Homo sapiens: one gene and its partner. The protein of the gene in region 1 purifies or fractionates together with the protein of each later gene. This does not show direct contact. Each region holds a gene or a part of one and is shown on either strand. Other genes may lie near its edges.

Region 1 (3,754 bases):
GATCAGGAAGAAAAGAGAACTTAGAAAATGGAGACAAACAGAAAGCACAAAATAAAATAGTACTCTATATCTAAACCCAACTATATTAGTTATTATATTAAATGTAATGAGCTGAATTCTCCAATTCAAATACAAAAATAGAAAAAAAATTCAGTTATATCATGCATACAAAGAACACATCCAAAATATGAGAATATGGAAAGGTTTTAAGTTTCTAAGAATGTAAAACGATGGGAAAATACATCATTCAAATGTGAACCAAAAAACTGTATTAAAGTAGTAATATTAATATTTGATCATAAAAACTTTAAGGTAGGCCAAGGCGGGCAGATCACGAGGTCAGGAGATCAAGACCAGCCTGGCCAACATGGTGAAACCCTGTCTCTATCAAAAATACAAAAAAATTAGCTAGGAATAGTGGCACACACCTGTAATCCCAGCTACTTGAGAGGCTGAGGCAGAAGAATCGCTTGAACCTGGGAGGTGGAGGTTGCAGTGAGTTGAGATCGCACCATTGCACTCCAACCTGGACGACAGAGCAAGACTGCATCTCAAAAAAAAAAAAAAAAAAACTTTAAGGTAAAAATAATTAATGTATATAAGGAGGGTAATTTAAAAATAAAAAATTGTTAAAGTTTTTGAAAATATAATAATTTAAAATTTATGTGCTCTTCATAACATGGCCTCAAAATGTATAAAGGAAAAATTGACAGAAAAAGAAATAATGGGTAAATTCACAATTATAATGAAAACTTTTAATACATCTTTTGAAATAATTGATACGTAAAATTTGGACTACACAATAAATCCATTTGATTTAATAGATTGATTGATTGAATGATCGGTCTATCTAAAATATTGCATCCAACAAATGTAGAATGCACATTCTTTTCAACACTCATGGAATATTTTCAAAAATTGACCATATAGTAGAATATAAAGGAAGCTTTAGCAAATATATAAGGAGAGAACTCAGTTAAGATGTGTGATCTGATCTTAGTGCAATTAATAAAAAATAATAACATAAGTATATATTATGTATAATAATATAAAAGTTCAAAAGACAATAATAATAAAAACAGAAAATTCCCATATGTTTGGATGTGGTAGTGGTTGAGAGGCATGCATAGGACACAGATGTAAAAAGGACACTGTCTTGGTTTGCTGTATGTATTCAGGGATTGTTTAAATTTATTTAAGAAGATATTCACATAGTACTCATGCAATAGAAAAAGCTACTTTGCTGTTGCAGAAAATTTTACTCATACTCCTTCCTTTTCTCTGCCAATGCTAAATAAATTCTTAACCCAAAAGGGTGATTTTTAAAAGACACATGTTCTTTTCAACATAGTTATAAGTTGGACGCAGATTTGGATAAGCTCTCAGTAGTTCATCTGCAGCTGTGTACAAACTTTATCCCGGGTTGTTCAGGCCCAACACAGCTACTCTGAGACCAGATAACTAAAAAAACTAAAAAGAAGCTATACTGCTTTAAGTGAAGAAAGCTCCAGCCCTCAGGTGGAGTCATTTCCGGGCCCTGTGATAAAGCTCAGCTGGGAGGCTCCTCAGTCATTACTACAGGGCAGGAAGGGCACGTTCTCATCAGCATGGTAAGTGACTACACGCCTATGCATTGTTGTAGGAAATTTTACTAATCATATTTGGCCCTTTTCCCACAGCAAACAATTCTTAATAAAATTGTAATGCAAGAGAAGACATTTGTAAAGAAACATTTGTTTCTTTCAATGTCCAAGTAGATGAGTTGGGAGCAGATGTGGACAGGCTGTAATCTATTCCTCTGTAATGTTGCTTCTTTCAAGGTAAAGCTCAGTTGATTTGCAGTAGCTCACTGCCATTAATTGAAGCACTGAAGCAAAAACCTTTCCTTCCTTTAGTTTTCACCTTTGTTTTAGGCCCAGAGTGCTGATTTTTCTGTAGATATTCATTGCTTCACTTTTCGTTAGGCTGTTAAGAGTTTCTGAGGACTTCAGACTTAGGTAACCGTGGCTAACCTCATAAATGCCTGGCAGGGTAAAGTGCGCAGACATCTTCTTTGCCCTCCCTTGAGTTTAGTTCTTTGGGCACCACAATGAATAGAATAACTTACAATAATTCTGTTTTGGGATGACCTTTTCAGATCCATTTGCCCTTTATTTTTTTCTGTGCCAGTTTTTCAGTATCTTTGAATTTTTAATTCTTCAATGGAAGCAACATTTCGAACTGCTTCTTGATCTTTGATTTCTCACCCCATTGGTCTCTCTGTCCAACATTTAAAAAATTTTAAATTGTTTTGCTTTTAAAAATTATGCCTTTCAACATGAGAGAGACTTGTGATAATAGCATGTTCTGTATCTTATCACTGTCAACATTCTGGGTGTGATTTTGTATTATGGTCTTGCAAGATGTTTCCACTGCGGGAAATGGGTAACGGATGCAAGGGATCTTCCTATGTTATTTCTCACAGCTGCATATCAATCTACAAAGACCTCAAAATTGAAAGTTTAACTGAGAGTTATGCTTTTCTAGTAATTCAAATAATCCTTATAGCAGCGTTTAATAATGTGCTATGACTTATCAGTGTTGACGTTCAGTGGACATTTTATAGTCTTCTACTTTATAGTGTGACTAATATTTTCATAGAGAATTTGGAAAAAAAGGGAGAGGCTAAGAGAAGAATAAGGCAAAGATAGTCTTCTACACCCTTGGACAGAGTTATGTTATAAGCTAAGCTCCTTCAAAGACGAAGGATGCTTGTTAGTCCAGGCTATTCGTGCTGATTTCAAAAAGAACAGCATCACTCTGCTTTCTGAGTCACTTGAACAGACCACGTGAAGAGGAACAATCTTTTTTTTTTTTAATGTTAGTGATTATTTTTACTGTGACTATTATGAACAAATACCACATGTACACCTGAATTTTACTCGTCACTGTAACACAGGACTGGGTGGTAGCCAGTGGAGAAGACAGAGAAATCTACATGTAAACTTTACAAAGTAAGAGGTTTTAATGATGTAGAAACAATGAACGTTCACCCTCTCCTTTTAAAATGTTAACTTAAATTTAAGGAGCCAAGTTTTGATCAGATTACAGCAGCTGATGTATTTGCAGCACTTTAAGTCCGACAGAAGGGGAGAGGAATAAGATTAAGGTTATCTGAAGCCTGATAAGGGGTATTCGAAGCCTGTTTATAACAGAATATGCTGTCTTGAGAGGTGGAATATTAGTTTGTCCTAAATGAAGTGCTTTCTAAATTAGAGAGACTGATAGTTGCACAGAAAATAAACAAGATGGAAGCCCTACTAAGGTAGTGAACTTGAATTGGTCATGAAGCAGAGGGCTGTTATGCCTTGTGAATCACAGAGACAAAGTACAAAGGTTTGATGCCATTGAGCATGAACAGAGTCCAAGTCAGATTGCAGGGGTGTGGCCGACCAGAGCCCTCTCCTTACTTTCCTCTGACTAGTGGTCTGTGTAGACCAGTGGTCCTCAACTTTTTGGCACCAGGAACCAGTTTTGTGGGACACAATTTTTCCATGGAGTCGGCAGTGGGGATGGTTTCTGGATGAAACTGTTCCACCTCAGATCGTCAGGCATTAGTTAGATTCTCATAAGGAGCACACAACCTAGATCCCTTGCATGCGCAGTTCACAATAGGGTTAGTGCCCCTATGAGAATCTAATGCTGCCGCTGATCCGACAGGAGGCAGAGCTCAGTCAGTAATGCTCACTCACCTGCTGCTCACCTCCTTCTGTAA
Region 2 (3,654 bases), on another chromosome or scaffold:
AGATAATGAAAAGCTTTTGAAAGCCATCAATCCAGATAATGATCAATATAATATAAAAACCCAGTATAGGTTAGCAGTCAACAAGGCTGGCTGGAGGAAAGATCTAAAGTGGGGGCCCTGTGCTTTGTAGTAACATTGACTGAGAAGTCTGTAAGTGGGGGAAGTAATTATAAACCAAGGGAGATCATTGTCCTGTTTACAAGCCACTTGTTAAGCCACAGACTTTAACATTTCATGTAGGGACCGGGAAACCAAGAGGAACATCAATTTAAAATAGCCAGGGCCAGATCTCAGAGCTAGAAAAGGTCAAAGAGGTATTTTATCTGAGCTCCCTTCCAATGCAGCATTCAGAGCTTGACTTCCTTGGCAGGTGGTTAGATGTGGGCCTTGAAGAGACAGCCCAGACTCCTAAACACAGGGTGATCAGCACTGTTAGTGACATGATCTCACTTCCAGATGGCTAGTTCCCATCTAGCATGATACCCAAATTCTCCTATGATATTGGACACGTTATTTTTATTTTAACTAGCAGAGTATGACTTCAGTGTTCCCTGCCAGATTCGTGCAATCATCCTGGTGTCCCATGTAATGCAGCAAAATGGTGTCAAGTTCATGAAAGCGTAATGAAATGGTAGCTGTAAAGCTAGCCTATATTGGAGTTGCCACCAGGTCCACAGTCTCTGACATGTTTAATATCTGAGCCCTTTGCAATCTTCCTCTGTGAGGAGATGCTGGAGAAGCTCAGGCCTCTTTCTCTTCGCTGGTAATTTCAGTTCTCTCTAGATGAGAATAGCTTAAAGTCTCTAGATTCCAATTGGTTAAAACTCAAATTTTAAGAACAATGCAAAAAGGGGAAACATACCTGAAAAAAATCACTTTGTCACTCTTAAAATTATTTTCTTTCCCTCCCAATGTCTGTTTTGTCACAGCAGAAAATAATTTACCGCAAAGAAGTAGAGGGAAGACCAGAAGGTAAAGTGAATGGTAATTCTTCTTAATCGACTCGGCTCGAGGAGCTTGTGGAATCCCTTTCCAGAAGCTTTACCATCACAGCTCTGTGACTGTCTCCCAGCAATACTGACTGCAGTCATGTGACCTGGCCCAGCCCAGGACTTCTCTCATTACAGCTGCCCCAGATTTGGGCCAATGTCCGTCTACTCTCCTGGTTTTACTGTAAATAAGTATATCCTGTGATGCTCTGTCTTTCCAGGCCATGTGGTATGAAAAGTCTTAACCTCAAAGGTTAAAAGACCCAGGTTCAACTCCTGGCTCTGCTATTTACAAGCATGGAGCAAGTTTTGGACACATAGTGAGTTCCTGGCACACAGTGAGCACCCAAGATATAATATTTTCCCTCTTTTCATCATTTAGTTAATTTCAAGCACTCCCAGATCAGATGTCCTGACCTGTCTGAAGATCAACAATGAGCCAGGAGGTGTGAGCTCAGGCTTCTGGCTTCGCCAGTCCTGACCAGTGGGGACCCATTCTTCTCTTGCTTTTCCCTCCTGTTCACAGCTCATCTTGCATTCCTTTCTCCAGCTTCTCAAGTCCAAATCTCATTTGGGGCTTGTAGCCTCTGATGGGAGCCCCTCTGTCTCTGGACCTTTTTGGGTGCACATATTCTCTCACAAGGCCCCCTACTCTTGCCAGTGTCCTTCGCATTCCTCTCGCCCCACTCCCATAGACCCCTCCACTGTCAGAGCTGTTCAGAAATACCCAGGGGAACAAGGGTGCTGCTGCCGGCTGCCAGTGAGGGCCAGCTCTGGGGCATCGCAACCTGTGGGCTGTTGCTATTACAGTAGGGCCTAAACCTCATGGAAAGACACAGCCATCCAAGCAGTCAACAAAGTGTTTAAAGTCTTAAAATGCTCTTGGAAAAAGAAAAGTTAGATTGTAATCACATGCAACTTATTAGGCCCTCAAGAGGTATGGATTCTGTTATGCCTCCGCTACATTTCCCACCCCTGCGACTCCAGTTCCCTTGTTCCAGCCTCAGAAGGAAGGGCCTAGGACACTTTACAGGGCTGGTGGGCACAGCTTGCAAAAATGGCTGTGGAGCCCACGCACGCTCCACGATCCTACTTGTTATAATACTTGGCCTCGGGCTACCTTTGCTTTGTGCTATTCTGCAGGAAGAGTTTTATCGCTTTGACAAAAGTGTTATTCTTTTATTTATAGTTTCCACAAAGTTAGTCAGACTCTGGGTAATAAATGATAACTGCTTGTGCATAGAAATCATGAGGAGCGTTTGCAGCCAGCTTCGGAAGGCTTTTGGATTCTATTTTTCTGGAACCTTCTCAGCATTCTTCCCTGGCAAATGCTCTGTGAGTGAATGGTGTCAGAGTGCTTTGTTCCCCTTAGGCAAGGAGCACCGTGGCACATTTGACAGTGTGGGGGCTCCTCAGCTCCTCTCTGAGTAGATGTTTGTATGTGGCAAGTGTAAAAGTTGAATAGCAAATGGTTAGAATCAGGAGGAATAACTAGGAAAGTAATGAATGGTGTTTCTGCGGACAATTTATACTCAAATATAGTTACTAAAATGAGACATGTCATGAGACTGGCTATTAGCAAATCAAAGTGTCTTTTCCTAATCTTGGAAAAGATTTATAATCCCCACTTAAAGATTTGCTGATGAACCAAGGGAGGAAAGGTTATCTAATGTGATGGATGACAGAAATGGGATCCCAAAAGATCTTGGCAATTCCAGAGATGGGTTCAAAGTAACAAGACGAAATTTAATAAAATAAGGTTTAAGCTCTAACAAGAGTTACAACAAATAGCTCCTCCATTACAAAATCAGAGACCTGGAAATCTCAGTTTACCTGGGCCAACAGTGTGACATGAGTGCTACTGTGGTCCCAGCCCCATCAATAGAAATACAGTGTCCAAAAAATAGGAGGTCACACTATTCTGGAAGGTGACCAGTATGAGGAACAATCTGGGAACCAGGTAACTTTAGAAATGACTAGAGCAACTGCAGATGTTGAGCTTGAACAGATGGCTGGTGGAGGGGCACTCCTTAGAACATTGCAGGAACAGGCTTCAGTTCACCCTCTAAAGGGCGATTGGGCCTTTTCTGCCAAATTCCACAGGGTGCACCTAGGACTAATGGTTAAAGTCAAAGCAGAGTGAATTTGGTTCCATGTTCAGAAGAATTTTACCATCCTCAGAACCAATTTAAAATAAATTGCATTGCTTTGTACATTAGTGCTCTTGTATTTTGGTCTTGTTAAAGCAGATCTTGGGGATCAGTTGCATCCAATGGGAAATCAAAGTGGGAATATAGAATCCCTGTTTCCTGCCAGCTCCACAAGGATGGTGAGGCAAGTTTAAATACAGACACACACACACACAAACACATAAACACACACACACACTTCCACACACACATATATAACTTCTCTTGAGTCAACACTATTAATATAAGTTTGCATTTGTAAAATGCTTGGTTTTCATTTCATAGATATTTTATTTTTGTGCCAGCAAAAGGGTAGAGAAAGACATTCTTATTCCTAGTTTAAAGATAGAAAAAAAAAACCCCAAGAACTGTTAGTGTCCACTTCTCATGACGCTCTCCCCAGTGAGACCAACACTCACAGATGTGTCACCATGTGGACATTGGTGGTGTTATCGACATGTGTGGTCTTGCTGGCC

The links. The genes of interacting proteins can lie anywhere in the genome.
Region 2: the proteins of TUBAL3 (region 1) and KATNAL2 purify together in Homo sapiens (tandem affinity purification; one large-scale study listed by IntAct). This does not show direct contact.

What each region holds. Positions count from the first base shown.
Region 1 is NC_000010.11:5,402,646-5,406,399, reverse strand, and holds the start of TUBAL3 (tubulin alpha chain-like 3), read left to right. Parts: upstream 1-1,571; 5' UTR 1,572-1,607; coding exon 1,608-1,610; intron 1,611-3,754. UniProt on the Homo sapiens protein: Tubulin is the major constituent of microtubules, a cylinder consisting of laterally associated linear protofilaments composed of alpha- and beta-tubulin heterodimers.
Region 2 is NC_000018.10:47,053,467-47,057,120, forward strand, and holds part of KATNAL2 (katanin p60 ATPase-containing subunit A-like 2), read left to right. Parts: intron 1-929; coding exon 930-972; exon of another isoform or gene 973-984; intron 985-3,654.